3 linked regions of the Homo sapiens genome follow. The protein of the gene in region 1 purifies or fractionates together with the protein of each later gene. This does not show direct contact. Each region holds a gene or a part of one and is shown in the gene's direction. Other genes may lie near its edges.

The links.
Region 2: the proteins of RPL7L1 (region 1) and BOP1 purify together in Homo sapiens (affinity purification with mass spectrometry; 2 studies listed by BioGRID and IntAct, with this or other methods). This does not show direct contact.
Region 3: the proteins of RPL7L1 (region 1) and DDX18 purify together in Homo sapiens (affinity purification with mass spectrometry; 2 studies listed by BioGRID and IntAct, with this or other methods). This does not show direct contact.

The regions. Positions count from the first base shown.
Region 1 is NC_000006.12:42,875,312-42,882,625, forward strand, and holds the start of RPL7L1 (ribosomal protein uL30-like), read left to right. Parts: upstream 1-4,304; 5' UTR 4,305-4,599; coding exon 4,600-4,640; intron 4,641-5,549; coding exon 5,550-5,655; exon of another isoform or gene 5,656-5,771; intron 5,772-7,314.
Region 2 is NC_000008.11:144,281,424-144,288,445, reverse strand, and holds part of BOP1 (ribosome biogenesis protein BOP1), read left to right. Parts: intron 1-7,022. UniProt on the Homo sapiens protein: Component of the PeBoW complex, which is required for maturation of 28S and 5.8S ribosomal RNAs and formation of the 60S ribosome.
Region 3 is NC_000002.12:117,810,051-117,817,705, forward strand, and holds the start of DDX18 (ATP-dependent RNA helicase DDX18), read left to right. Parts: upstream 1-4,640; 5' UTR 4,641-4,727; coding exon 4,728-4,812; intron 4,813-7,393; coding exon 7,394-7,655. UniProt on the Homo sapiens protein: ATP-dependent RNA helicase that plays a role in the regulation of R-loop homeostasis in both endogenous R-loop-prone regions and at sites of DNA damage.

The DNA.
Region 1 (7,314 bases):
TTTTCCTCCGATTCCAGACTCTACTACTATTTCCCAAAAAGACCACCGTCAGCACTTTTTCATATATGCTTCCAAAATTGTTACATACAAATATACCTATAACTGGCCGGGCGCGGTGGCTCATGCCTGTAATCCCAGCACTTTGGGAGGCCGAGGCAGGTGAACACCTGAGGTCAGGACTTCGAGACCAGCCTGGCCAACATGGTGAAACCCCATCTCTACTAAAAATACAAAAATTACCCAGGCGTGGTGGCGGGCACCTGTAATCCCAGCTACTCAGGAGGCTAAGGCAGGAGAATTGCTTGAACCCAGGAGGTGGAGGTTGCAGTGAGCCGAGATCGTGCCACTGCACTCCAGCCTGGGCGACAGAGCGAGACTCTGTCTAAAAAAAAAAGAAAAAAGAAAAGAAAAACAATCTGGGGACTGGGCACGGTGGCTCATGCCTGTAATCCCAGCACTTTGGGAGGCCAAGGCAGGCAGATCACGAGGTCAAAAGATTGAGACCATCCTGGCCAATATGGTGAAACCCCATCTCTACTAAAAATACAAAAATTAGGCAGGCATGGTGGTGTGCGCCTGTAGTCCCAGCTACTTGGGGGGCTGAGTCAGGAGAATTGCTTGAACCTGGGAGGCAGAGGTTGCAGTAGGCCGAGATAGTGCTACTGCACTACAGCCTGGCGACAAAGCGAGACTCCATCTCAAAAAAAAAACACAAAAAACCAAAACAATCTGGGACCATTTTTTTACACCCTAGTCTGTATTCCATATGTTTGGGACTGTTACAGTCAGGATTATTTGGTTGTAAACAACAGAAAATTATTCTAGTTAACCAACATAAAGGGATTTTGTAAGGAAGATAAGAATTAAAAAATTGAAGAACCCATGAGGCTTGAGAAGGACAGAGACAAAGAAACTCTAGGAGGTTTTCTTAGGTGGAAATCGTTAAAAGTTTTGCCCCTGACTGGGTGCGGTGGCTCATACCTGTAATCCCAGCACTTTGGGAGGTCGAGGTGGGCAGATCACTTGAGGTCAAGAGTTCGAGAGCAGCCTGGCCAACATGGTGAAACCCATCTCTACTAAAAATACAAAAATTAGCCGGGCGTGGTGGCACACGCCTGTAATCCTAGCTACTCGGGAGGCTGAGGCGCGAGAATTGCTTGAACCTGGGAAGCAGAGGTTGCAGTGAGCCAAGATTGCACCACTGCACTCCAGCCTGGACGACAGAGCAAGACTTTGTCTCAAAAAAAAAATAAAAATAAAAACGAAAAAAAAAAAAGTCTTGTCTCAAATCTGGTGCTTTGTTCCATCATCACTCTGCTTAAAATTCAAAATCACAGAGAAATTTAGCATCTCATACCCACTCCCAATGGGGTGATGAAAAGAATTGAAAAGATCTTCCAAAGACTCCTTCAGTTTAAGTATTGGAGGGCAAGCGTTTGGATTTGATATCCTCCCAACAGCTGCCCAAATGTACATGATGAAGAGGAAATAAGTTCACAAGAGGACTGGAATTTTTTTTTTTTTTTTGGTGGGGGGAGACAAGGTCTCACTCTGTCGCCCAGGCTGGAGTGCACCGATTCTCGTGCCTCAACCTCCCAAGTAGCTAGGATTACAGGTATGCGCCACCACACCCAGCTAATTTTTGTATTTTTAGTAGAGATGGGGTTTCACCATGATGGCCAGGCTGGTTTTGAACTTCTGGCCTCGGGCGATCTGCCTGCCTCAGCCTCCCAAAGTGCTGGGATTACAGGCATGAGCCACCACACCTGACCTCAGTAACCTCACTTTGAAAAAAAATCTAGGACACATGCTCAATGCTCAATAAACACATATTCAGTTAGTGAATAATTGTTTAAGAGGTGGGGCTCCTTTCTTTTTCCCTTTGTCAGTCTGGTGGAGTAAGGGGATTGGCACTGAGAATAAGTATTCTCCTAGCACCATCTGCTGGCAGTAGAAAGCCATTCCTGAATCCTGGCCTCAATCCCATTCAGTCTTGGAGTACTGGTTTTTTGGGGGTTGTTTTGACACAGATTCTTGCTCTGTTGCCCAGGCTGGAGTGCAGTGGCATAATCTCGGCTCACTGCAACCTCCGCCTCCCAGGTTCAAGCAATTCTCGTGCCTCAGCCTCCCAAGTAGCTGACTACAGACATGTGCCACCATGCCCGGCTAATTTTTGTATTTTTGGTAGAGACAGGGTTTTGCCATGTTGCTGAGGATGGTCTTGAACTCCTGAGCTCAAGTGATCTGCCTGCCTCGGCCTCCCAAAGTGCTGGGATTACAGGCGTGAGCCATCGCCGCCTGGCTGAAGTATTGTTAACCCTAAAATTCCTCCTCCTTTTAATATTATTGGTACCACAGACTCTACCTTTTATCCATAGACAGGAAAAATCACAAAACATTTAACTTTTTGCTTTTTTGTTTACTATTTAGTGAATGTCTTACACTTTGGTGACCCTTGTGTTTAGCCTCTTTACAAAGACACATGGTGAGGTGCTGAAAGAGAATGAGCCTCCCTCTTTCAGTGTGTGACCTTGAATGCTGGGTTGTCCTGACACTTACTCATCAGAAAGTGACCTGTGCCCATGGCACTCTTTCCGGTTGGACTAGTTACATGGCAACACGAGGCCTTTAGCTGCCACCAGTATCAGTATCAATAGTGCCAAAATCGAGAAATTGGTGCTAGATCCTTAGGATCAGTGATGAGTAAGCAGTCATGGTTCCTGCCCCCCCTAGTATCATGTGGAAGAAATATTAAAAATATAATAATGTCCTGAGGGAAATCAGACACTACTCTAGAGTCTTACTAGTCAGCCCATAGACCAGTAGCACCAGCGTCACTCTGAAGCCTGTTAAAAATGCAGAATATTGGCCAGGTGCGGTGGCTCACGCCTGTAATCCCAGCACTTTGGGAGGCCGAGGCGGGCGGATCACGAGGTCAGGAGATCGAGACCATCCTGGCTAACAAGGTGAAATCTCTACTAAAAATTCAAAAAATTAGCCAGGCGTGGTGGCGGGCGCCTGTAGTCCCAGCTACTCGGGAGGCTGAGGCAGGAGAATGGCGTGAACCCGGGAGGCGGAGCTTGCAGTGAGCCAAGATCGCGCCACTGCACTCCAGCCTGGGCGACAGAGCGAGACGCCATCTCAAAAAAAAAAAAAAAAAAAAAGCAGAATATCAGCTCCCCACCCGGCCTCCTGAATAAAAATCTGTATTTTAGTAAAATCTTCAGGTGACTCCTATTCACTATTAATGCTTGAGAAGCGCTGCTCTGGAGGTTTCCAGAGATGATAAGACTTGTGTTGTTTTTCAGGATTTTTAATTTTAAAAAAAATTTATTTCTTGTTTTTTTTGAGACTGTCTCGCTCTGTCGCCCAGGCTGGAGTGCAAGTGGCACAAACTCGGCTCACGCAGCCTCCGCCTTCTGGGACTTCAGGCGCGAGCCACCACGCCCAGCTAATTTTTTGTATTTTTAGTAGAGACGGGGTTTCACCATCTTAGCCATGCTGGTCTCCAACTCCTGACCTCAAGTGATCCACCTGCCTTGGCCTCCCAAAGTGCTGGGATTACAGGTGAAAGCCACCGGCCCGACCTACTGTTTTTCAGGATTCTATATAGACTGGGAGGGAAGAACGCAAATTCCGGGCGATGAGAGCTGCATAAGGGTTTTATTTTTATTCTTTTTTTTTCTTTTCTTTTCTTTTTGTTTTTTTGAGACGGAGTCTTGCTCTGTCGCCCAGGCTGGTGGGCAGTGGCGCGATCTCGGCTCACTGTAACCTCCGCCCAAGACGGGGTTTCGCCGTGTTGGCCAGGCTGATCTCGAACTCCTGACCTCAGGTGATCCTCCCGTCTCGGCCTCCCTCCCAAAGTGCTGGGATTACAGGCGTGAGCCACCGCGCCCGGCCTGTGTAACGGTTTTAGACGGGAAGGAAGCATGTTGTAGTTTTCGGTCCAGCAGTAATAGTAACAAACATAGTGCTGACAGACACTGCTAAACGCTTTATCTAATCTCCTGTAATCCTCGTAACGCCATTAGGTAGACCTATTATTACTGTACACCCATTTTATGGGTAATGAAGCCGCAGTATAGAGGGGTTAAATAACGTGTTCAAGGACGCATCGACGGGGCCAAGCAGACGGAATTGCAGCTACCTGCTTTACCACTCTAAGTCCTCAACAAACACTTCCACCTACACGTGAGAGCCAAAGCCATAGCCTCCAAGTTTTTCCACAGAGCGAAAATGTTTCGCGGAGTTTGCCTGTCTTCCTCCCCAGAGACGCAGCACAGCCGCGCCGGAAGTGCGGCGCCGTAGCTAGGAGCGGACGCCATAGGTGCATTGTGGGAAGCACTTTGCTGTCCACAGCCAGGCCGCTTGTGATGAAACTGTAACTTACAAGAAAAGGGCTGGGTTTTGAAAATAACACAGGCTCTAAAAACCCTAAGAAGCGGTGCAACTTTTGGCAGGAATCGGGGTTAGCGGGACCTCAAGGGCTCACTGCGGCTAAGTGAACGCTGACTGGTCCTCCAGCGTGAGCTAGAACAGACGTCTCTATGGTCAAGTAAACAGAGCGTGTGCTGTCTTCCCCATGTGGTGGGGTTGCGCATGATCAGTAGCTGCACCACTAGAAAGATGGCGGAGCAAGAGTGAGTGTTTGGGGCTTTGAATATCTGGAGTGGGGTCTTGAGTATCCGGTGCCATCCACGGTGTTTATGCCTTGGTGGCGGATTCCTGTGGGCTCTAGGAATAGAAAAGGCCACAGTTTACAAAGGGTGGGGGTGAGGAGGAGTAGCGCTGTGGCGGAGGAGGGAGGGGACCGCGGTCAAGTTCGGGTTATCTGGAGAGGCGAGGATTGACTTCAGGCAGCGGGCTGGAGTGCCACAGTTGAATTCACCCAGCCCGACAAGTGTTAACTCTGCAGATAGGCCTGCCCCCGCCCCAACCCCATAGATTCGTCGCTGCTAGTGCCTATGAAGAACTGTGGCCGTGAAAACCCTGTTAACTTATACGAACCCAGAGGCTAAAGGATTCATTATTTTCCGAGGCTTTGGGGATGAGTGACTATTAGGGATGGATTTATGAGGCCTGGAGTCAGAAACCGCAGGTTTCAGGGGAATCTTTCTTCAGATACTTGAAAACAGTAATGTTCCCTAAAGCCCAGGATATTGAATTGGTTTGGAAATCCATTGAATGTTCGTTTTCTTTTTTGTTGTTGTTTTTGTTTTGAGACGGAGTCTTGCTCTGTCCCCCAGGCTGGAGCGCAGTGTCGGGATCTCGGCTCGGTGCAACCTCCGCCTCCCGGGTTCAAGCGATTCTCCTGCCTCAGTCTCCCGAGTAGCTGGGATTACAGGCGTGCGCCACCACGCCCAGCTGATTTTTTATTTTTAGTAGAAACGGGGGTTTCACCATGTTGGTCAGGCTGGTCTCGAACTCCTGACCTCAGGTAATCCACCCACCTCGGCCTCCCAGAGTGCTGGGATTACAGGCTTGAGCCACCGAGCCCGGCCAAGTGTTCTTTTCTAAATGTTATCTCTGATCTCAATTTTCTGCATCAGGCAAAGAAAAATCCCTTTGGTTCCAGAAAATCTCCTGAAAAAGAGGAAGGCTTATCAAGCCCTCAAAGCCACCCAGGCAAAGCAGGCACTTTTGGCAAAGAAGGAGGTAATGGTGGGGAACCAAGAGAAAGTAATTAGAATTTTTATTTGGTGAGTTTTATCCCGCATGTGTTGGACTACATTTGGTATTGACGAGCTCCCCCCAACGGTTTGACAGACCAGGTATAGTTGTCTCTCAGTGTCCTTAAGGGGTTGGTTCCAGGACTCCCACAGATGCCTAAATCTCAGACTGCTGAAGTCCCTTATATAAAATGGTTGTAGTAGGCCGGGCGCGGTGGCTCACGCCTGTAATCCCTGCACTTTGGGAGGCCGAGGCGGGCGTATCACGAGGTCAGGAGATCGAGACCATCCTGGCTAACACGGTGAAACCCCGTCTCTACTAAAAATATAAAAAATTAGCCGGGCATGGTGGCAGGCTCCTGTAGTCCCAGCTACTCGGGAGGCCGAGGCAGGAGAATGGCGTGAACTCGGGAGGTGGAGGTTGCAGTGAGCCAAGTTCGTGCCACTGTACTCCAGCCTGGGCGACAGAGCGAGACACTCTCTCAAAAAATAAATAAATAAATAAATAACTGGTTGTAGTATTTGCATATAATCTATACTCCTTCCGCCTATGTAGTTTAAATCCTCTCTGGATTGCTTAATAGCTTTATTTATTTATTTATTTATTTTGAGGCAAGAGTCTCACTCTTGCCTAGAGTGGAGTGCAGTGGCACAATCTCGACTCACTGCAACCTCTGCCTACTGGGCTCAAGCAATTCTCGTGCCTCAGCCAACCAAGTAGCTAGGATTACAAGCATGCGCCACCACACCTGGCTAATTTTTTTTTTAACTTAATTTAATTTTGTTTTGTTTTTTGAGACAGAGACTCACTCTGTCACCCAGGCTGGAGTGCAGTGATGCGATCTTGGCTTACCACAACCTCCGCCGCCTCCCGGGTTCAAGCGATTCTCCTGCCTCAGCCTCCCAAGTAGCTGGGATTACAAGGATGTGCCACCATGCCCTGCTAATTTTTGTATTTTTAGTAGAGACCGGGTTTCACCATGTTGGCCAGGCTGGTGTCCAACTCATGGACTCAAGTGATCTGCCCACCTCGGCCTCCCAAAGTGCTGCGATTACTGATGTCAGCCACCCCACCCGGCCACCGGCTGATTTTTGTATTTTTAGTAGAGATGTTTTGACATGTTGGCCATGCTGGTCTCAAACTCCCGGCCTCAAGTGATCACCCACCGGCCTTCCAAAGTGCTGGGATTACAGGCCTGAGCCACCCTGCCTGGCCTGGATTACTGATAGCTAATACAGTGTACATAATGTATTTTAAAAATTTGTATTACTTTTTACGGTTATTTTTCATTTTTTCCCCTGAATTTTTTTTTTTTTTTTTTTTTAAGAGTGAGGTCAGCTGGGCTCACATCTGTAATCCCAACACTTTGGGAGGCTGAGGCGGGCAGATTACTTGAGGTCAGGAGTTCAAGACCAGCCTGGCCAACATGGTGAAACCCCATCTCTACTAAAAATACAAAAAATTAGACGGGCACTGTGGCATGCGCCTGTAATCCTAGCTAATCAGGGGGCTGAGGCAGGAGAATTGCTTGAACCCGAGAGGCGGAGGTTGCAGTGAGCTGAGATTGTGCCACTGCACTCCAGCCTGAGTGACAGAGCAAAACCCTGTCTCAAAAAAAAAAAAAAAAAAATAAGTGGGGTCTTT
Region 2 (7,022 bases), on another chromosome or scaffold:
AGTAATTCTCCTGCCTCAGCCTCTCTAGTAGCTGGGATTACAGGTACATGCCATCACGCCCGGCTAATTTTTGTACTTTTAGTAGAGACAGGGTTTTGCCGTGTTGGCCAGGCTGGTCTCGATTTCCTGACCTCAGGTGAGCCACCACGCCCGGCCTATTTTTTTTTTTTTTTTCTAAGACAGAGTCTTGCTCTGTTGCCCAGGCTGGAGTGCAGTGGGGCGATCTTGGCTCACTGCATCTTCCACCTCCTGGGTTCAAACAATTCTCCTGTCTCAGCCTCCTGAGTAGCTGGGATTACAGGTGCCCACTACCAGGCTCGGCTAATTTTTTTTTGTATGTTTAGTAGTGACGGGGTTTCACCATGTTGGCCAGGCTGGTCTCGAACTCCTGACCTCAAGTGATCTGCCTGCCTTGGCCTCCCAAAGTGCTGGGATTACAGGTGTGAGCCACCGCGCCCAGCCCAGCATTTGTTACTCTAAACATTCTGGAAATCGTTTGTAAGGATTTACTCTCCCAGTAGTTTCGGTGTTCTGGAAGTTACGGCCTTGGCAGAGGTCCCCGTGATAGAAGCCAAGGAACCATGGCTTGTTCATTGTGTGCTAGCTGTGTTGGGTTGGCTTGTTTGCTGGGAAGAAAAGATTTAAAATCACACTTAATTCAGGCTTTAATTATACCACTAACATACACAGAGAAAAAATGATGTGCTGTGTTGGCAGTGGTTTGTAAGATTATGGACAACTACGTTACCCCTTCTTGAGTTTTTAAAATGATACAATACTGGGCCAGGCACAGTGGCTCATACCTGTAATCCCAGCAGCTCGAGAGGCCAAAGTGGGAGGATCTCCTGAGCCCAGGAATCCAGGTCACAGTGAGCTATGATAGAGCCACTGCACTCCAGCCTGGGTGACAAGCAAGACCCTGTTTCAAAAAAAAATTATGAGATAAAACATCCTGGAAAATAATGTAGATATTGTAGCAGCACCATTCAGTAGGGTGGAAGCTCCCACTCAGGGCCCTCACACCTAACCCGTGAGCACAGTTAGTGGTCTGGTGTACATCTTTCTGGGTCTTCTGTCCCTTTTTAAATTAAGGATTTACACATTTACATGTTAATGATTTTTTTATTAAATTCTTTCAGCGGGCGTGGTGGCTCACGCCTGTAATCCCAGCACTTTGGGAGGCTAAGGTGGATGGATCACCTGAGCTCAGGAGTTCAAGACCAGCCTGGCTAACATGGTGAAACCCTGTCTCTACTAAAAATATAAAAATTAGCTGGGCGTGGTGGCGCGTGCCTGTAATCCCAGCTACTCGGGAGGCTGAGGCGTTAGAATCACTTGAACCTGGGAGGCGGAGGTTGCAGTGAGCCGAGATCTCACCACTGCACTCCAGTCTGGGTGACAGAGTGAGGCTCTGCCTCAAAAACCAAAACAATGTTTTCGCATAATAACATATCCAAGTACTTGAAAGGTACTAGAGGTGTCTGCGGAGTCTAGGGAGGCGCCATCTTCTCTTCTCGCTGCTTGTCTCCTGGCCCCTGGAGCACCAGGTCCTCTGCACTGCTGAGTGTGTGCTTGTCCTGCCCATTGCCCTGCTCGGGTTTCTGTGACCGCGTAACTGGCTGCCCCATGCAGGGTGTTTTCCAAAGTACCGCTGTCTGTGGTCTGTGTGCTCCGTCATCCAGCAGGGCCTGAGGTGGCAAGGCCGGCCGGGCTGGTGGGGCGGTCCTCAGAGTTCCCCACGCTGCTGGCTGCCCAAGTCCCTGCCTGAGGCCCTGCCCTGTTGTGGCGCTCATGCACCTGCCCGCGTGTCCTGTGCTTTAGCTGAGGGGCCGAGGCCCTGCCCTGCCATGGCGCCCGTGCATCTGCCCGCGTGTCCTGTGCTTTAGCTGGGAGGCCGAGGCCCTGCCCTGCCGTGGCGCCCATGCACCTGCCCGCGTGTCCTGTGCTTTAGCTGAGGGGCCGAGGCCCTGCCCTGCCGTGGCGCCCATGCACCTGCCCGCGTGTCCTGTGCTTTAGCTGAGGGGCCGAGGCCCTGCCCTGCCGTGGCGCCCATGCACCTGCCCGCGTGTCCTGTGCTTTAGCTGAGGGGCTGAGGCCCTGCCCTGCCATGGCGCCCGTGCATCTGCCCGCGTGTCCTGTGCTTTAGCTGAGGGGCACCTTGGGCCCTGTCAGGGTGTTTTCAGTTCTAAAGTGTGATCCTCATGACTGGGTTTAAATTCTTCCAGGTCAGGAGAATGAATTGATGAGGTGGGGGTGCTTTCAGCTTCTTAGTGGGAACCCCTCCCTTTTCCCCCCTGTTCATCAGAAGCCACCCAGGCACCTTGGCCTGCTGAGCGGCCACTCCCTCCTGCCTGCCCTCCGCGCCCCTCTTGAATGGTGGGAGTCCTTTCCCATTGTGCAGCCCTGCAGGTGGAAACTCAGCCGGCAGCCCAGTGCTGCCTCCTGCATGTTCTCTTGGCTTCCATGAGCGTGGCCACGTGAGGCCTCCCAGAGTGCCGCCAAGATGGCCCCGTCATGCCCAGTTAGTGGCCTCAGGTTAGGCCTGTTTCTGTGTCATCCCGAAGGCAGTCCAGGGCTCCTTACGCCTGTATCTCCGCCACCTCCCACTCGCATCGTGGGTCCACGGGGCCGGGCCACCAGGGGCTCTGCCAGACACCCTCGCCCGCCACAGCCATCTGGAGGATTCTGCCCCCGATGCCCCTGCCAGTGGTTGTGGGTCCTCAACCCAAGAACCCTTCCGTTGAGCGGCTTCTAGAATCAGTGCCCCTTGGTTCTGGGAATTCACACCACAGTGACACAGCAGCTTCTCCTGCTGCTAAGTGTCCTTGCCCTGCAGTGGGCGCACCTGGGATTCTGTGGTCCTGGCCACGGCCACTCGTGTGGTCTTGCAGATGGTTCATGGGCCTCGGTGGGTTACTTGGTAAGTGAGGGTAATGTCTGCCTGGCAGCCCCTGAAGGACGAGATGATGTTTTTGCTAATTTCTCTTCTGCCACGTGCTTCTGCCTGTCCCCCCACTCCCTCCTGTCGCTGTTTCCTCCACAGTGGTTGGCAAGACGTGGCCCCTGTGGCCTCTGCCTCGTGCATCTGAAGGACATCCCAGCCACAGCATCACATCAGACTGGAACAGTGGCGGGATGGGGCTGGGCATCAGGCAGCATGCATGTGTCATGTCACGGACACCTCAGGGACACACGAAGTCAGGCAGGGCGAGGGCCTCACTCCCCAGGCCGCCTAGCCCTTGGTGGGTATACCCGGCCCCGATGGTGCTGTGAAGAAGGGGCTGTGTGACTGGCATGGGAGGGAGCTGCGGCTTTTGTTCATCTCTGCCATCCTGGCAGCGATGTGGCTGATGGGTCACCTTCAGAGAGCCTCCTCCATAAATCTGATTCCAAGTGTGTGCCCCAAACCAACCCAGACCGGCCCGGGGCGTCCTGCGGAGAGCCCCACAGTGGGAGGCCCTTGTAGCGGGGAGCCCGGTGACTGCTGGGGGTCAGCTGCTGGCGGCCCCTGTGGAGACCTGGCGACCTGCCAAGGGCTCCGGACCTGCCTGGGTGGACCCAGGGTGGGCGTGCTTCTGGCTGCAGGGCCGGGCCACAGGCTTCCCTCTGGCTTTCTGCCCTCAGGCCTTTAGCATTGACATGCACACGACCCTGCCTCCTTTCTAAGGACTGTGTAGAATTACGTGGCATTCAGTGAGCAGCTGCACGTGGTGTTCTAGGGCACCTTTGGATGCTCAGGTGCTCCTGAGGGGTGTGCCAGGGAACGAGTCTCCTACCCTTCCCTCCTGGCTCCTGTTGCTGCATCCAGGCAACTACTGTTTCCAGTGCTGAAGTCTCTTTCCAGGATGTTCTAGACATATCCAAACTCGCACAGAGTTTTTGAATGGTGGTTTCTTAAGAGAAGGGGCAGCCGTGCGCTGTCTCAGGATGGTTCTGTCAGGGAGGCCATGGCTCTGGTTTGTACAGTGCTTGGTGCCCGTAGAGTGCCTGGCAGCTCGGCCTCAACAGCTCCAGTGGGTGGGCAGTTGCAGGCTTTTGCTCTTACAGTTGACCTGACAGTAACATGCTGTTTCTCACATGTGCACACCATTCTTGGGGAAAATTCCAAGAGAATTTCTAGGTCAAAGGATAAATGCTTTTTTTTGTTTGAGACAGGGTCTCACTCTGTCACTCAGGCTGGAGGGCAGTGGTGCGATGTTGGCTCACCAAAATCTCAACTTCCTGGGCTCAAGGGATCCTCCTACCTCAGCCTCCCTGGTAGCTGGGACTACAGGGTCCCCGCCACCATGCCTGGCTAGTTTTGTTTTGTTTTGTTTTGTTTTGTTTTTTGAGACAGAGTCTCGCTCTGTCGCCCAGGCTGGAGTACGGTGGTGCAATCTCGGCTCACTGCAACCTCCACCTCCTGGGTTCAAGTGATTCTCCCGCCTCAGCCTCCTGAGTAGCCGGGATTACAGGCGCCCGTCATCACGCCCGGCTAATGTCTGTATTTTTAGGAGAGACGGGTTTCACCATGTTGGCTGAGCTGGTCTCGAACTCCTGACCTCAGGTAATCCACCTGTCTTGGCCTCCTGAAGTGCTGGGATGACAGGCGTGAGCCGCCGCACCTGGCCATCAATGCATTTAATTGTGAAGGTGCTTGGAGCGTCCCTCCGCTAGGCGGTGATGCCATGCACTACTGCAGCCGCCCCTCAGCTGCTTTCCCACCACCAGCCTCCCTCATGGTGTTGCTGCTTCATCTTTTCCTCTTGTTTAGTGATGTTTTTCTTTCATTAAGAATGAGGCTCGCACAGCTGGGCTTAACTGAAAAAATAAAAATAAAAAGAATGAGTCACAGGCTGGGCCCAGTGGCTCACACCTGTAATCCCAGCACTTTGGGAGGCCAAGGCAGGTGGATCTCTTGAGCCCAGGAGTTCAAGACCAGCCTGTGCCATATAATGAGACCCCATTTTTACAGAAAATTTAAAAAATGAGCCAGGCATGGCGGTGCGTGCCCGTGGTCCCAGTCCCGGAAGCCCTTCTGTCTCTTCCCTGTGGCGGCATCATCCATGCACTTAGCTGGCTGGAAACCCTCATGGCTGTTGCCCAAGGGCAGGACAGCTAGCTGGTTCTTGTCATTTTGGTCTGAGCTCCCTGGGCCAGGAGCCCTTTGCTGTTTTCTCTCTGTTTGTTTGTTTTGTTATCTGGCACCACAACAAACTGCCCCAAACCATGGAGCCTTTCTTTTTTTTTTTTTTTTTTTTTTTTGAGATGGAGTTTTTTTGCTCTTATCGCCCAGGCTGGAGTGCAGTGGCACAATCTCGGCTCACTGCAACTTCTGCCTCCTGGGTTCAAGCGATTCTCGTGCCTCAACCTCCTGAGTAGCTGGGATTACAGATGCCAGCCACCACGCTCGGGTAATTTTTTTTTTTTTTGTATTTTTAGTAGAGAGGGAGTGTCACCATGTTGGCCAGGCTGGTCTTGAACTCCTGACCTCAGGTAATCCACCTGCCTTGGCCTCCCAAAGTGCTGGGATTACAGGCGTGAGCCACCGCACCTGGCCACCATAGTGCCTTTCAACAACGAGCATTTGCTGTCTGTGTTTCTGGGGTCAGGAGTCCTGGTGTTTTGTGAGGTGCACTCAAGGAGCAGGGTCTGGCTGTGCCCTTTGCAGCTCCTCCCCTGACTGTTGGCATGAGGAGCTCAGGAGTGAAGGTGAAGAAGGGTACTCTGTGTCTGGGGGGTGGTCAGAGGATAGGGATGAGGACAGGGACAGGGCCCAAGAAGATGGGGTGGGTGCTGTACCTCCCCCTTCCTTCCCTGGGGTATCTGTGGGCCACGGCAGGGCCCACAGCTGTTGCTAGTAGCCTCCTTGGGGCCAGTGGGTTTGATTTATTTTTGTGTTTGTGTGGTTTGAGGGCAGGCATCCCTTCCCCACCCTTTGCGTCCCTGCTACAGTGACCCCTCTTTCTGGGTCCACCTGCTCTGGCACGAGCTTGGTGGGCCAGCCTCACCCCAGGGCCCACCCCATCTCCAGCCTCCCTGCCTTGGGCCTGGCAGTCCTGCCTCTTAATTGCGTTCTGTGCCACCTGATGACCCACGAGTTCTGTCTCCTGGCCTGGTTCCTACTCCCTGGGACTTTCTGCAGCCCCTGCCCTTCCAGCTGTTGACTGTGTCTGCGAGCCATCCCACTGGAGGGGCGCCCTGGGCTGTGTGCTCCCTGCCCTGCAGCACCCCTGACACGGGTGCTCCCAGCCCTCCACTGACCAGCCAGGGAGGAAGCTGCCTCCTGCCGGCCTGTGCCTCGCTTCCTGTCCCCTCTCCAGCAGCACACGGCAGCGCGGGCCGCGGGCTCACCGGAGCGAGGACTGGTTGCAGGGCCTTCTCTTTATCGCTGGTGTCTAGTGGATCTGTGGGGTCCGTGCGCTCAGAGCTGTTTTTTCCTTTCTGTGCTCATTTAGATTCATTTTTTTCCCAGCTTTGCTTGGTTTTGTCTTTTCATTTATGTGAGTTTTTCTTTTTATTATTTTGTGCAGAAGTTTCTGTTTTTATCAGTTAATCTGCTTGTCACAGTCAAGAATGTGAGAAAAGACTGGATGCGGTGAGCCAAACCTGTAATCCCAGCACTTTGGGAGGCCAAGGTGGGCGGATCACTTGAGGAGTTCGAGACCAGCCCGGCCAACATGGTGAAACCTCATGTGAATTGCTTGAGCCTGGGAGGCGGAAGTTAGAGTAAGCTGAGATCATGCCACTGCCTCCATCCTGGGTGACAGAGTGAGTGGGACTCTGTCTTGAAAGAAAAAAGCACTAGTAAGAGAAGGCCTAAGACCTAGTATTAAAGTAAGAGAAGGCCTAAGACCTGGTATTAAAGTGAGAGAAGGCCAAAGACCTGGTATGAAAGTGAGGGAAGGCCGAAGACCTGGTATTAAACTGAGGGAAGGCCGAAGACCTGGTATTAAACTGAGGGAAGGCCAAAGACCTGGTATGAAAGTGAGAGAAGGCCGAAGACCTGGTATTAAACTGAGAGAAGGCCAAAGACCTGGTAT
Region 3 (7,655 bases), on another chromosome or scaffold:
ACAATAGCAAAGTCATGGAACCAACCCAAATACCCATCAATAATAGACTGAATAAAGAAAATGTGGAACATATACACCATGGAATATTATGTAGCCATAAAAAGGAATGAGGTCATGTCCTTTGCAGGGACACAGATCAAGCTGGAAGCTATCATCCTCAGCAAACTAACACAGGAACAGAAAACTGAACATCACATGTTCTCATTCATAAGTGGGAGTTGAACATTGAGAACTCATGGATACAGAGAGGGGTACAACACACACCAGGGTCTGTTGGGGGGTTGAGGGTGAAGGGAGGGAACTTAGAGGATGGGTCAATAGGTACAGCAAACCACCATGGCACACATATACCTATGTTACAAACCTGCACGTTCTGCATGTGTATCCCTTTTTTTTTAGGAGAAATAAAGAAAAAGAAGAAGAGAAAAAAAAGAAAAAGGACATTAGTGGAAAAACTAGTGAAATCTGAATAAAGTCTAATTTAGTTAATAGTGATTCACTAACGTTAATGTCTTTATTTTGATAAATGTATCACGGCTACATAAGTTGTTAACGTTAGGGAAAACTGGGTAAAGGGCACTGTTTTTGCAACTTTTTTGCAAGTCTAAAATTATTCCACATAAGAAGTGTATTAAAAATAAATTCATTTCCATCCTCTTATTTCCGCAACATACTGTACAAGCAAGACTCAGTCTGTGATTCAATCATCAGTGGTCAGACTATGACTCGAAGGGAAGGAAGTCAAATGCAGTTCATTTTAACATTGTCACTATCCCCTTATTCACTCAAGCCTGACCCAGCCCCTAGACTCTTTCCCCCTGCAAATCTCCTCTTATGCTCCTGACTACAAATCTGCTCTTGATCCCTTGAATTGTTACTTAATAGCATATTAAGACTTGTCTTTGACAGCCTTTTCTCTGACCTTAGATCTTTGCCTCCTCAAAAAATACCTCCCACCTGAATAGCATGCTGTCCTGCCCTCCCACCCATCCCTCTTTATTATATTGCATTGTCTGGTTGTAATGTCTTCCCAGCATTTAGCTTCATGCAAAGGTATCTTGTTCAATCACAAGGTTTACTTATACCTGTCGTCTCTTATCCAGGCTGTAATCTCCCTGGAAATGAGGACTTTTCCTGTCTTGTTTACTGCTGATCCCTGAGGCCTAAAACAGTACCTGGAATGGATAGATGGTATTTTTTTAAATTAATAAATGAATAAACTTCTTGACAGAAAAGTTTCTGTTATATGTTTCTGTATCCTCTCCAGCTCCTAGGACCACTGCAATAATGACTTGTCATGAATTGTGGTGATGCTCTTTAAAATAATCTCTCACTCTTATGTCCATCAGTTCACTGAAGAAAACCTTTCTTAAGTACCAGCCATCTGCTTTCTACAATGTAGAAATACACAGAACCAGATGCTGGTCCAGGAAAGTCAGGTAATGTGAAGGAGGCAACATCATGCTTATTTACAATAACATAGCACTTTTTAAGTTCCAATACACAACAGAGTGGTTAACCTTATAGAAAATAGCATTTGAAAGTTCCTAGAAAATCACTTCAAGAGTCCTAATGCAGTGATCCGAGAGGATGAGTCAGTTATTTCTGGCTCACAATTCTATGATGTTGGTGAAATAGATTGATTTCTTTTCCCAGTGAAGTGGGACGTTTTTAATTTGAATGACAAACTACACAAATCTGCGTTTTATTTTACAAACACTTGTCTCAGGTTTAAGGATCTCAAGTGAAAACTGAAAAACAAAACAGCATGAATAAGACCTGTTCTATGTTAAACTTAATTATTTTTAGTCAGGAGGTAAAAGACAGAAACTCCTGGCCAGGTGCGGTGGCTCATGCCTGTAATCTCAGCACTTTAGGAGGCTGAGGCGGATGGATCACCTGAGGTCAGGAGTTCGAGACCAGCGTGAATAACATGGAGAAACCCTGTCTCTACTAAAAATGCAAAATTATCTGGGTATAGTGGTGCATGCTTGTAATCCCAGCTACTTGGGAGGCTGAGGCAGGAGAATCACTTGAACCCAGAGGCGGAGGTTGCGGTAAGCCAAGTTCGCGCCATTGAACTCCAGCCTGGGCAACAAGAGCAAAACTCTGTCTCAAAACACACAAACAAACCAACAAAAAAAAGACAGCAACTCCCTTCCTGCTTCTGCCTGCTGCTGGCTCAGTCCCTATGCATAATGAATATTGAATGACAGACTCCATCCCCAGACCCCTTCCCAAGGCTAGGATGTTGCTCCTGTGATGTGCTTCCTTTTCACTGCATTCATCATAGTTTACCATAATCGTTTAATTTTCTGTCTTCCTTGTAAGCTCTGTAAGCTCCACCTAGGCGAGCCAGGTCTATCTTGTCCACCATTTTATACCCAGGATTTGGCACATGCCTACCACACACTCTTAGCACAAAAATGCTCAAAAAATAGTTGCATAATGACTATATTATGCGATTGTTTTATGGCGAATGACCATATTCTGAAGAGAGAGACCTCTGTGATGGAGAGCCCAAGCAAGAAGTTTTAAAGACTGAAACGCATTCTGAATAGATACTGGGATAGGCTCCAGCTGTGAAGAACAACAGGCTTTTCAGAAGCACGTGATTGTTACCTCATCCTCACAGGTAATTTTTGAGTAGCTAACCCAATGACATTGTTTTCTTTGCTAGAGTAACTGATGATGTGGCCTTGGAAATTCACTCTGTTAAAAATAACTCTCAACCCTAATTTTGAGAGTTGATTTGAAGTTATAATTTCTCATTCTTCTTCTAAAAATCCAGAAGAATTGGCATCAGTAGCTTTATCTATGTTTCTTAAAAGGTTATCAATCCCTAACGTTAAGCATTTCCATGCACCTGAAAGGATCGGCTTCTCTGATCTAAATGTCTTAAACACCTCGTAAATGTGGGTTTTTTTGGTTTTGAGGAAATGACTGCCAATCTTCACTACTAGCTAGAAAAAGTCACACTCTAGAAAAAAGGGAGTACCTTTCCATTACTACTACCAAAACATAGCCCCACAAATTTAAGTTACAACATAAAAGAAATAACAAATTTTGAGCACTTTCTATATATACTTCAGTTGTATCTATTTCAAAGTCACAGACCCAAAACTCACACATGTAATCAGGTAAATATATATGTATGTACATAGAGCTATAGAAATAGATACATATGTGTATATGCATATATATACTGATATATGCATAAATTTAAACTGGCATATATATTTACACTGAGATAAATGTTTGCGTGTGTGTGTGCGCTCTTACATTTCTGAATCATTCTTCAGCCTGCCTGATCATTAACAAATTAATCTAAGCACATTATTATTTGTTTGTCTTAGTTTTCCAGTCCAATCCAATGTGATTTCGAAGTCAATTCCTTCACATTCTGTTTAAACTCCCTCCCAAGTTTTCTCCCTCTCTGTTCCTCACTATGATCAGGTCTAATCTCCAGGGTCTCATGTTCTGCCCCTCCAAGTAAACAAATTAATCCAGGTTTCATGGACTCTTCCAGTTGTTCAGCTCAAATTGATTACTGTTAAGGGGAATTTGAGGGCATTGGGCCAATTTTTAAAGACAAATATGAATTTTTATGGAAATCTCCAAGTATTTTAATGTTGATAACAATTTTTTTAAAAATTAAATACTATATGCATACCCCTGTCTTCCTCCCCATCCCAAAAAAGAGATGACTATTAGCTAGCCACATTGCAATTTCTGTCCTGGACTGCTGAAGGGTCCTTGGGTATACTTAAGGAATATATAAACCTCTTTTTCAAACTGCAGTCAACCTATTATTAATGTAGTAAAGTTAATTTAAATTCATAGGAATCAGTATTTTTAGTAAGCTAAAAAGAATAATTTAGGATGGAATGAATGGAATTGAAGGAAAAAGAGTGAAAAGCAAGAATATTATTTTGAGAAATGTTATATTTATGTGTGTATGTGTACCAAGTGACACAGAAATTGTATTTCTGAGGAGAGTGGCCAAACAAGTTTGGAAATGCATATATATAATTTAGTTCTATTCAGTTTCCCAAATACAGTTGTCCCTCAGTATCCACAAGGGATTGAGTCCAGGACCCTCTATGGGTACCAATATCTTAGGATACTCAAAACCCTTATATACAATAGTGTAATATTTGCATTTATTTTACACACAACATCCTGTATACTTTAAATCATTTCTAAATGACTTATAATACCTTATACAACCTAAATGCTATGAAAGTAGTTATCACACTGTATTATTTTTAATTGTTTTTTTTTTAATGTTTTCAATGGGGGAGTTGGTTGAATCCACAGACAGGGAATTCAGGTACAGGGAGGGCCAACTCTAGTTCTGCACCCACAGAGGATAGGAACATAAAAATGCGGACTCCCTAAGGCCTCCTTCCCCTCCACGTTCTTTCTTCAGTCTTCCTCTAGGGGGAGCTCAAGTTAGCTTTAGCACAGTGTGAAGCCAGTGCAGCGTCTCGCTTCCACTTCTCCAGGGGGCGCTGCAAAGATTTTGGTCGCCAAAGATATCACGGTGCGCGCGTCTGGAAGCATTTCCGCTCTGGAGCATTTTCGTTCCGCCGGGTGCCAGCGTTCCTGTGACGCGTTTCCTGTTGGCCGAGCTGCGCACGTGCGGCCGGAAGGGAAGTAACGTCAGCCTGAGAACTGAGTAGCTGTACTGTGTGGCGCCTTATTCTAGGCACTTGTTGGGCAGAATGTCACACCTGCCGATGAAACTCCTGCGTAAGAAGATCGAGAAGCGGAACCTCAAATTGCGGCAGCGGAACCTAAAGTTTCAGGGTGAGATGCGTTGACTCGCGGTGGCTCAGAAGACCCACGCGCGAGCCCTGGCGCGTTCGGGCGGCCGGGGGCCCAGCTGCTCTGTGTGACGGAGGCAGCTTCCCCTGCAGCGTGTGTGATTGGGGAGAGTGAAAAGGCAGCTTCCACTCGGGACCCGCGCTGCTGCCCACTCGTCGCGTGGCTCCAGCGCTGCTCCTGACCTTTCTGAGCAATCAGTGTCTTCTTACAACGTTAGAGCGGGAGGACTCCCCGTTCACTTCTAGGCTTACGACTAACCCTGCCTTTTGCATTTCCACCTTAGCTTTTGGTTCCCTCACCACCTGCAAGTCGCACCTCACCTCATCCCTCATTTCCGGTTATGCTGCATGAAACGTCTCATTTCCACCCACTTTTCACATCTATTTAATTCCCGTATTTCTTTCCCCAAAAGCCCGTCTGGCTGTTTCCACAGAGCTTCTTTGATACTATTGCCTTCCTCTACCCACTTCCACACGTTCTCGTAGCACTTTCTCACCAGAGCTTCTACGTATTTGTGTCCCGCACAGTGACCTAAATGAAAAGGATTTTATCTGAATGTCACCTTTCTTACCTACCTCATTTGCAGTCCCAGTGTCCTGACAGTGGGGCCACAGATCTTGAAGTAATTGTGTTAACCTGTTGTCCAGGTTAAGATACAAACTCCCCGAGGGAAAGTTTGGAGGCACAGTGCCTTGCCCCAGTTGGTTTTCAACAGACATTAATTGAAAAAAAATTCTGCAGGAGGCAATAGGTTTGTGAATTTTAGGAATATGTTTTGAAATACTCTTGTATTTCTAATTCCTATAGAATAATACTACAGCATTACTACTTTTCAGCGCATATGTAAGTAAATTTGAACAAAAGATGGTGTTTTATCTTTTTCAGTAAACAAACAGGGAACCTTTGGTAAGGACATTCTCAGGTACAGTCATGCATCGCATAACAGGAGGGGGGATACATTGTGAGAAATGTGTCATTAGGGGCTTTTGTCGTTTTGCGAACTTTATCTAGTTACACAAACCTAAATCTACTACACACCCAGGCTACATGATATAGCCTGTTGCTCGTAAGCTGTCATCCTGTACAGCATGTTACTGTACTATACTCAGAGAATTGTAACACAATGGTAAGTGTATGTATGGCTAAATATATCTAAACATAGAAAAGGTACAGTAAAAAGACTATGACATGAGAGATTTAGAAAATGGTACCTCTGTATACAGTACTTACCATGAATGGAGTTTGCAGGACTGGAAGTTACCCTGAGCGAGTCAGTGAGCGGTGAGTGAATGTGAAGGCCTAGAACATTACTGTACACTATAGACTTTATAAACACTGTACACTTGGGCTACACTGTTGAGTTTTTTAATACTTTTATTCTTAAATTAACCTTAGCCTGCTGTAACTTTTACATTATAAACTTGTTAAATTTTAACCTTTTGACTTTAATAACACTTAGCTTACAACACAAGCACATTGTACATACAGCTGTACAAAAAGTTTCCTTTTGTCCTTATTCTATGTGATTTTTATTTTATTTTTTTTTCTTTTTAAGCTTTTTGTTAAAAATGTAAAGACACAGACACATTCAGTTTCACTGTCTTCCGCTTCCACATCTTGTCCCACTGGAAGATCTTCAGGGGCAACAATAGGCATGGAGCTGTCATCTCCTATGATAACAGTGCCTTCTAAAATACCTCTCTCCCTGAGGCTCTTTTACAGTCGACTCATTTTTTTTTAATAAGTAAAAGGAGTAAACTCTAAAATGATGATCAAAAGTATAGTAAACACATAAACAAGTAACATAGTTTATTATCACGTATTATGTATTGTACATAATTATGTGTGCTGTACTTTATACGACTGGCATTACAGTAGATTTGTTTATACTAGCATCACTACAAACATGAGTAATATGTTGCACTACGACATTGCAGTTACTGATGGCACTAGGTGATAGGAATTTTTTAGCTCCGTTATAATCTTATGGAGCCACTGTATATGTTGTCCTTAATTCACAGAAATGTCATTGTGCACGCATTACTGTATTTGCATATGATAAATATTGGAGCAAATAAGTGGTCTTATCAACTGAATTTTCAACTCACTGCAGTCTAGAAGAGTTGGGGTTGAATGTTTTGAAGTGGTATGAAAAATAGTACTTGTGTGAATGAGTTGTAAATGTCTTTTTCAATATATCAGTTAATCATATGTTTATCAAATACTTATGTTTATTCTGTAACTGCCATTATCTGACCTCATCTGTTTAAATATTTGACCTCATTGAAGTTTTCCTGTCCTAGACTCCTTAAAGTCAGATGTACGGTCTTTTGCAGTTAAGAAATCAATATAGCTTTCCCTTTTCCAGTATTTTTTCTTTAAGATAACTTACTTTCCCTATAAGGGAACACCATAAAACTATAAGTTGTTTTAATTACATGAAAGAGAAGAAAATCTAAATAATTTGTGTCAGGAAGCCATGGAAGTTCTCATTTGGGATTTCAGTGTTTCTAAGTAAACTTCTCCTTCTTTGTCACAGTATATGTTCTGTTTATTTAAACAGGGGCCTCAAATCTGACCCTATCGGAAACTCAAAATGGAGATGTATCTGAAGAAACAATGGGAAGTAGAAAGGTTAAAAAATCAAAACAAAAGCCCATGAATGTGGGCTTATCAGAAACTCAAAATGGAGGCATGTCTCAAGAAGCAGTGGGAAATATAAAAGTTACAAAGTCTCCCCAGAAATCCACTGTATTAACCAATGGAGAAGCAGCAATGCAGTCTTCCAATTCAGAATCAAAAAAGAAAAAGAAGAAAAAGAGAAA